2 linked regions of the Homo sapiens genome follow. The protein of the gene in region 2 purifies or fractionates together with the protein of the main gene of each other region. This does not show direct contact. Each region holds a gene or a part of one and is shown on either strand. Other genes may lie near its edges. The genes, in order: ENPEP and ZCCHC14.

Evidence for each region.
Region 1: the proteins of ZCCHC14 (region 2) and ENPEP purify together in Homo sapiens (affinity purification with mass spectrometry; one large-scale study listed by BioGRID and IntAct). This does not show direct contact.

Annotation. Positions count from the first base shown.
Region 1 is NC_000004.12:110,507,048-110,510,869, forward strand, and holds part of ENPEP (glutamyl aminopeptidase), read left to right. Parts: intron 1-2,605; coding exon 2,606-2,760; intron 2,761-3,197; coding exon 3,198-3,311; intron 3,312-3,822. UniProt on the Homo sapiens protein: Regulates central hypertension through its calcium-modulated preference to cleave N-terminal acidic residues from peptides such as angiotensin II.
Region 2 is NC_000016.10:87,416,292-87,420,113, forward strand, and holds part of ZCCHC14 (zinc finger CCHC domain-containing protein 14), read right to left. Parts: intron 3,587-3,822; coding exon 3,492-3,586; intron 2,611-3,491; coding exon 2,556-2,610; intron 1,452-2,555; coding exon 1,169-1,451; intron 1-1,168.

The sequences.
Region 1 (3,822 bases), on a different chromosome or scaffold from region 2:
GTAGTGATGGAGCCACAAATAGCAACGTAGATCAGTTGATTTCAAAATCGGCATTCATCCCAATACTTGCTCTGCCTCCCTGTCATCAGCGAGTTAAAAAATAATAGGGATAAATGATGTTGTAAGAGCCCCATGTGCTTCCAGTCTTTCCATTGTTGTACAAGGCAAATTCTAGATTCCCCAGCAGTTTAATGAAATACTGGTGCTCCTTCCAGCAATAATTTTTTCTAATACAGAGGGAGACATGCATTCTTCATAAAGCAAAAGTGGGGCTACAACCAAAATGGTGTGCATATGACATTTCTATCAATAGTGGAAATGCTTTATTAATAAGCTCGAGAGCTATTAACAAAGACTTTAAATATAACACCCATATAGATGTTTGTAGGGATGAAATGAAGGCAGTAAGAAAACAAATTAGCCAACAGTTGGCCTCCCTGTATCTGTTTCTGCCTTTACTTTAATAACTTATCAATGCACACAAGGGGAATGCAAAATTCTCTGCATGGGAATGGCTGTGGCTCAGAGCAAGCTTGTAGATGCTGCATGTCTCTTCAATGGATACAATTCTATTTTTTGATTGCTTAACAAATGTTAGAGAAGGAGCTGGAAAAAGAAACAAGTTTTCATCAAAATCAGAATATTGGGCCAGGTGCAGTGGCTCACGCCTGTAATCCCAACATTTTGGGAGGCCCAGGCGGGCGGATCGCTTGAGCCCAGAGGTTCAAGACCAGCCTGGCAACATGGTGAAACCCCATCGCTACAAGAAATACAAAAATTAGCCAGGTGTTGTGGCACACACCTGTAGTCTCAGCTACTCAGGAGGCTGAGGTGGGAGGATCACTTGAGCCCAGGAGGTTGAGGCTGCAGTGAGCCATGATTGTGTCACTGCAGTCTAGGTGACAGAAGACCTCATCTCAATTTAAAAATATCAGAATAATATTTAATAAAATATTGTACACATGAATTTAAAGATCCTTTGCCTTTTATCTCAGTTGTAGCACCCAGGATAACCTGAGAAGTGGAAATCTCACAAATTTATTACTCTCTTCTCCTCTCTTTCTTTCTCCCTCTCCCCAACTCCTTTATTCTGTTTTATGTGCATTTTCAACCCTCTCAGAATTAATTATATCTTAGACTCCTTAGAGGTGACTTCTGCATTTATTAGACTCCAAAGAGTTAAATATACAAGAATTAGTTAGTTACAATGCCAGTACTGACCAAAAAAAAAAAAAAAAAAATGAGATTGCAAAAAATTCCTTTTGTTCAAGGATTAAGTGCAAACTGCACTCCACAACATTATGAAAAATATTGGCCCTTGGGGGAGATACTTCTCTACTTTTGAAATGACTGTCTTGTGATAAAATAACCAAACCTAAAAATGAGATAACATGAAAAGGAAACTACTATTGTAATCTTGACCTCTACTTAAGATACATCCCTCTTCATTCTTTTATAAAAAGCTCTAAGAATATTTATTTTGGCTGGGTGCGGTGGCTCACGCCTGTAATCCCAGCACTTTGGGAGGCCGAGGCGGGTGGATCACGAGGTCAGGAGATGGAGACCATCCTGGCTAACACGGTGAATCCCCGTCTCTACTAAAAATTCAAAAAATTAGCCAGGCGCGGTGGCGGGCGCCTGTAGTCCCAGCTACTCAGGAGGCCGAGGCTGGAGAATGGCGTGAACCCAGGAGGCAGAGCTTGCAGTGAGCCGAGATCGCACCACTGCCCTCCAGTTTGGGCAACAGAGCGAGACTCTGTCTCAAAAAAAAAGAAAGAATATTTATTTTAACCAGAAAGAAAGGGCCTTCTCTTATATGTTAAGTGAAAAATCAATTTGTTTTCATTTCTGTGCCTCATTTAAATTATACATAATAATAAAGAAATTACATTCTGTTTACAGTTCATTAACTGGGGAAGCTGTATTTTGGCCACTAATCATCTGAGCATTTTCTGTCTTGGGATTTAACATAGAACTGATCAACACTGCCTCCTCCTGTCAGATATTATGTGTAAGACTATAGAAACTCCTGTCCAACATTTTAGAACTGTAAGGGAATCTAGAGAGAATATAGTCAACTCCATGTTTCTCCAACCAATTTAATACATAAAAGCGGATGATAAGCTATTAGATTGGTATTTCTATCAATATTTTATAGAATTAGAGAAAAATGGAGTTTTATATTCTTGAATAATCTGTGTCTTTGGATGGAAAACTGTATCTATACACTTGGAAGCTCAGAACTTCTAAATACTAATTTGAAAACTTCTCTTTTTCCTCACGGCTTATCCCCTAAAACACATGTAGCTAATAAAAATGAAATACAGAGAGAAACAAAAGACATAAAATTATAGAGGCATTGCCATTAGTGTCCTTCTTTAAAACAAAAACAAAGCATTGATATCTGGAGCCAGCAGGGAATGCTCTATGGAAACTTTGAGTGCATTAGGACTGAAATGTTCGCACACATGATTACAGTTCTTTACTCTAAGAAATTATTTTTAGGCTTTTAAAAAACATTCATCCAAATAACTTAATTTGGTAAGAAAAGCTATGAACAAATGGAAAGAATGTATTTCTCACTGGACTCTTTCTTCTTCTATAGATAAAATCGCTATTCCAGATTTTGGCACTGGTGCCATGGAGAACTGGGGACTCATCACGTACAGAGAAACGAACCTGCTTTATGACCCTAAGGAATCAGCCTCATCAAACCAACAGAGGGTGGCCACTGTGGTTGCCCATGAACTTGTGCATCAGGTACAGAATCTTAGCACTGAATCAGCTTGTTTTTTTAAAGTGGCTTAAGACCACAGGAATAATTCAAATTATTTATGACTTAGCAAATAAAAAATAGCCAACTCAGAAAAACTTGCATGAAAATCTTTCTTGGTACTAATAAACATTTAGCCATAAAGAGACTTTGAACCACATTGTTTTGCCTTTAGGAAATATGCACGAGGCCTTCATATAAATTTATGTACCCCAGTAATAACTAAATAAAGGCAATAAACTAAAGACAATTTAATATCATTTAAATAATCAGAATAAAGCAGGAAATAAATGTTAAGTACAATGCCTGCCACTTCTGTCACAGTGACAACATTGGCACGGACAAATAAATGTTTTGACATTTTCTAGGCCTCTCTACCATACCCATAAGAATGTAATTATCTCTTTATTGCTTATAATTTCAGTGGTTTGGAAATATTGTGACCATGGACTGGTGGGAAGACTTGTGGCTAAATGAAGGATTTGCTTCTTTCTTTGAGTTTCTGGGAGTAAACCATGCAGAAACAGACTGGCAAATGGTGAGTCCTAAACACATAAACTTGAAATCTCTCTTTTCCTCATGCAAAGCAGATGGAAGCCTTTGGACTATGATAATGGTCCCGAGTCAGATGGCAAGTACAGTGGTGAGCGGGGAATTCCACTGTGAGGATAGGGTGGAGCCAGCTGACTTCCACTGACTACACCTTGCCCCAGTACCTAGAAGGGCAGCTGATCATCACAATCTGGGGATATCCTTGACAGAGTCACTCAAAACACATTATCAAGGCAGGAAAAAAAAAAAAAAAACAGGTGGCATAGAAAATGTTAACTCTGTGTTCCAGAAAGTATCTATAGCACTAACCCTTTGAAAAAATGTCGGAGTCTCATTTGTGAACGACTTACTTTATTTCAGACAGATTGCAGAAACAGTGTGATGAAGAGATAACATAAATTTAGTAGTTAGATTAGTTAGATTGAAGTTCAAATCCTGAACACATCATTTCTTAGATGCATGACAGGGAATATGACCTTGAGCAAGTTACATAATAT
Region 2 (3,822 bases):
GTTGTGTGGCTACTCCATTGTGTAGGCTGGTGCTACGCAAACACACCAGCCTCTAATTTTCATGTTATTTCCTAACATGATTTGTGATTTAGGCCATCTCAATGCAAACGTAAGAATAAAACATTTAAAACTAATTATGAACAAGGTTAGTAAAATCTCTGCTTTTTAAGATTCACAAATCCTTGGCCAGGCGCGGTGGCTCATGCCTGTAATCCCAGCACTTTGGGAGACCGAGGTGGGCAGATCATGAGTCAGGAGTTCGAGACTAGCCTGGCCAACATAGGGAAACCCTGATTCTACTAAAAATACAAAATATTAGCCAGGTATGCTGGTGGGCACCTGTAATCCCAGCTATTCAGGAGGCTGAGGCAGGAGAATCGCTTGAACCCGGGAGGCAGAGGTTGCAGGGAGCCGAGACCATACCATTGCACTCCAGCCCAGGTGGCAGTGCAAGACTCTCCATCTCAAAAAAAGAAAAAAACATTCACAAATCCTAAACAAAGGGTATTACAAATATACTTACAATTTGGATTTAACTATGTAGTAAAAGCTTGATTTCTAGGTTCAATTGTAGATTTTTCGAGAAATGAAATTTTTACATAGATAAAAGCCACCAAGCCGGTTTGCCCAGCAGAGGGAGTCCAGAGCTCAAATACCTTGTATGGGTTTAATCTAGTTTTATCACTGACATCAAGACTTAAGAAATTTCTGAATTTTTTTAACAGTGAAAAAATGTTCCTCATAAGAATTCTCTAGGTACGACTGCTTGGAAGATGTAAAATGCACCCATTCCTCTAGATCTGGCCCGCCGCAGTGTCTGCGCCAGCTACGCCGAGAAATGTCTAAAAGGGGCACCGTGCCAGAGCTCAGGATTTCTGTCCACAGCAGGGCTCTGGGGACGGACTGTCCCTCCCGTCACGCAGAGCATCTAGTTTGTGAAGGTCTTGAAGCCCCTAGACAAGCTGTTTGTTTACAACATGTCCTGTTTGTGGCTGGCTGCAGCTGCAGGCGGCCTCCGCAAAGCCCACCGTCTCCCTTAAGAACAGGCGCTGCGCCTCGGCCTCCGTACTTCATCCACCTTGTGTTGGTTTGGAAACTCAATGCCCCCAGGGAGGTCTTGAGTAAACAATCTAGCAATTCTGTACGGCCAGCCAGAAAACCGACATACCTTCTCCATGGAGAGCTGCTTAAAGACGGGGTAATACTTGTGCAAACGCAGTTTCCTAAGCCAGTCTAGAATCCCATTCTGCTCCTGGGTCTGAGGGGTCTGCAGACTGGAAGGCATGAGGATGGCAGGTGATGTGTCCATCTGGGTCCGGTAGGCCAGGGCTGAGCCCGCGCTGCCCGCATGGGAGCAGTGAGGCAAGGGGGCGGCGGAGCCGGCCGGGTGCTGCCCGTGGTGCTGGGCTCCGCTCTGCGAGGACGGGATACCAGCCACTCCACACACAGGCCTGTGGGACAGGGGCAGGAGGGACACAGAGAGACTGTGGCTTCCACAACCACAGACTCCACCACAGACCTCACTTCCAGGCCTTTCTGTGCCAGCCTCTGCCTCTTGGCCGGCCCTGTTGTCACAGGCCACCCTGAACTGCCAACACTGCTGTGCTATGACTGCCCTCCCTCCCCAACCACCTTTCTGCAGCTAAGATTTCTGTAATGCATGTCTGTGCACACGTGTGCATACAGGCGGCTGTGCATATACACACACATGCCTCTGCCCGTGCTTCGGAGTATGCGTCTACTTGTGTGTACGTATGTGTATTATGTATGTGTACGTCTCTGTCCCCACCAGACTTCTGCTTTAGCTGCCAAGTTTCTGTTACTTGTATTTTTTAAAAACATGCTACTCCGATAGGTATTTCTGTTACTTCTAAGTCACAGAATGACACTGATAAATCATACATCAAAATAGACTATTAAATCTTTAATGTTCAAATACAATTTTTCTAGAAAAGTAAAACGCAGAAGGCTGGAAGGTGTGACCGGCACTCCACTCTGGCCTTGCTCCTTAACTGCAAAGTCACACCTGCTGACTGGGCGCTTACCCTACCCCGACACCAGGAGGATGCCAGTCTACGCCTCGAAACCTCGCGCCCAGACAACATCTCCACGAGACTCCCTATGGGGGTGCGTGTGCACTGATCTGTGACAGCCCACCTCACTGTCAGCAAAGATGGGAGCCTCTGTGTTGCCGGCATACGACTGCAGCTACCCAGGGCCCGTGCGGACAGAGGACGCTCCTCAGGAGCACGACCCTATGCTTCTGGGAGCAGGTTTCTCACAGCCAGATTCTCGGAAATTCTGACTTTCTACGTCTATGATGGGGCCCAGGACCTTGCACTGGGGAGGAGTCCCTGGGAATTCTGATTCCAGTGGCTTAGAGAACTCTTTTTTTGGAAATCGTAAATTCAATCATCTCTACTCAATTCTTCTCAATATCATCCAAGACTCAACTTGAGCATGACTTAATTCTTGGAACAACTTTACACAGAACTCAAAGTAAACATTGTAAAATGCTTATCTGAACTGTGCTGGTTACATAGAAGATTTCTCACCTTCCAGACACGCCCATCACGGTACCTACTTTAGAAAGGGAGGGATTGCCAGGACCTATAAATTTAAAAATAAATACCATAAAAATTTACAGACAATGAAAATATTTGTTTTATTTTATTATTTTTTGAGACGGTGTTTTGCTCTTGTTGCCCAGGCTGGAGAGCAATGGTGCGATCTCGGCTCACTGCAACCTCTGCCTCCCGGGTTCAAGTGATTCTCCTGCCTCAGCCTCCCGAGTAGCTGGGACTACAGGCGACTGCCACCACGCCCGGCTAATTTTATATTTTTATTTTATTTTGGAGATGGAGTCTTGCTCTGTCAACCATGCTGGAGTGCAGTGGGGCAATCTCGGCTCACTGCAACCACCGCCTCCCGGGTTCAAGTGATTCTCCTGCCTCAGCCTACTGAGTAGCTGGGATTACAGGAGCCTGCCACCACGCCCGGCTAATTTTGTATTTTTATTTTATTTTGGAGATGGAGACTTGCTCTGTCAACCATGCTGGAGTGCAGTGGTGCAATCTCGGCTCACTGCAACCACCGCCTCCCGGGTTCAAGTGATTCTTCTGCCTCAGCCTCCCAAGTAGCGGGGACTGCAGGCATGCATCACCACGCCTGGCTAATTTTTTTGTATTTTTAGTAGACACGGGGTTTCACCATATTGGCCGGGCTGGTCTTGAACTCCTGACCTCGTGATCCACCCGCCTCAGCCTCCCAAAGTATTGGGATTATAGGCGTGAGCCACTGCGCCCAGCCTAATTTTGTATTTTTAGTAGAGACAGGGTTTTTCCATGTTGGTCAGGCTGGTCTTGAACTCCCAACCTCAGGTGATCCGCCCGCCTCAGCCTCCCAAAGTGCTGGGATTACAAGCATGAGCCACTGCGCCCAGCTGTTTTTTTTTTTTTTAATTTATATTTAACCATATTTTACAAACTCACTTGGACTCTGAAGCTGCTGTGGGGGAGAGGAAGTGCTGAGAAACCTCCTGACATGGTCATTTTTCAACACGTGAGAAGGTAATGAGGCCAGGTACCTAAAAGGCAAACAAGTGGTCTTATCAACATTAAAATGGCATTCCTGCTGACGAATTGAAAGAAAAAAATTTAACTTTTAATCAAGAGAAATGTGTATTAGAGGAAAAAAGCCAGAAGTGCCAGAGCCTCATATTCTTCCTGCTTTAATTCAACTGAGTTCTTGCCCGACTGCCACTGCTTCTTCAAGCCCTTCCTCTCAATGCTGTATTCATGGCCACCAAGGTTGACGACAGCA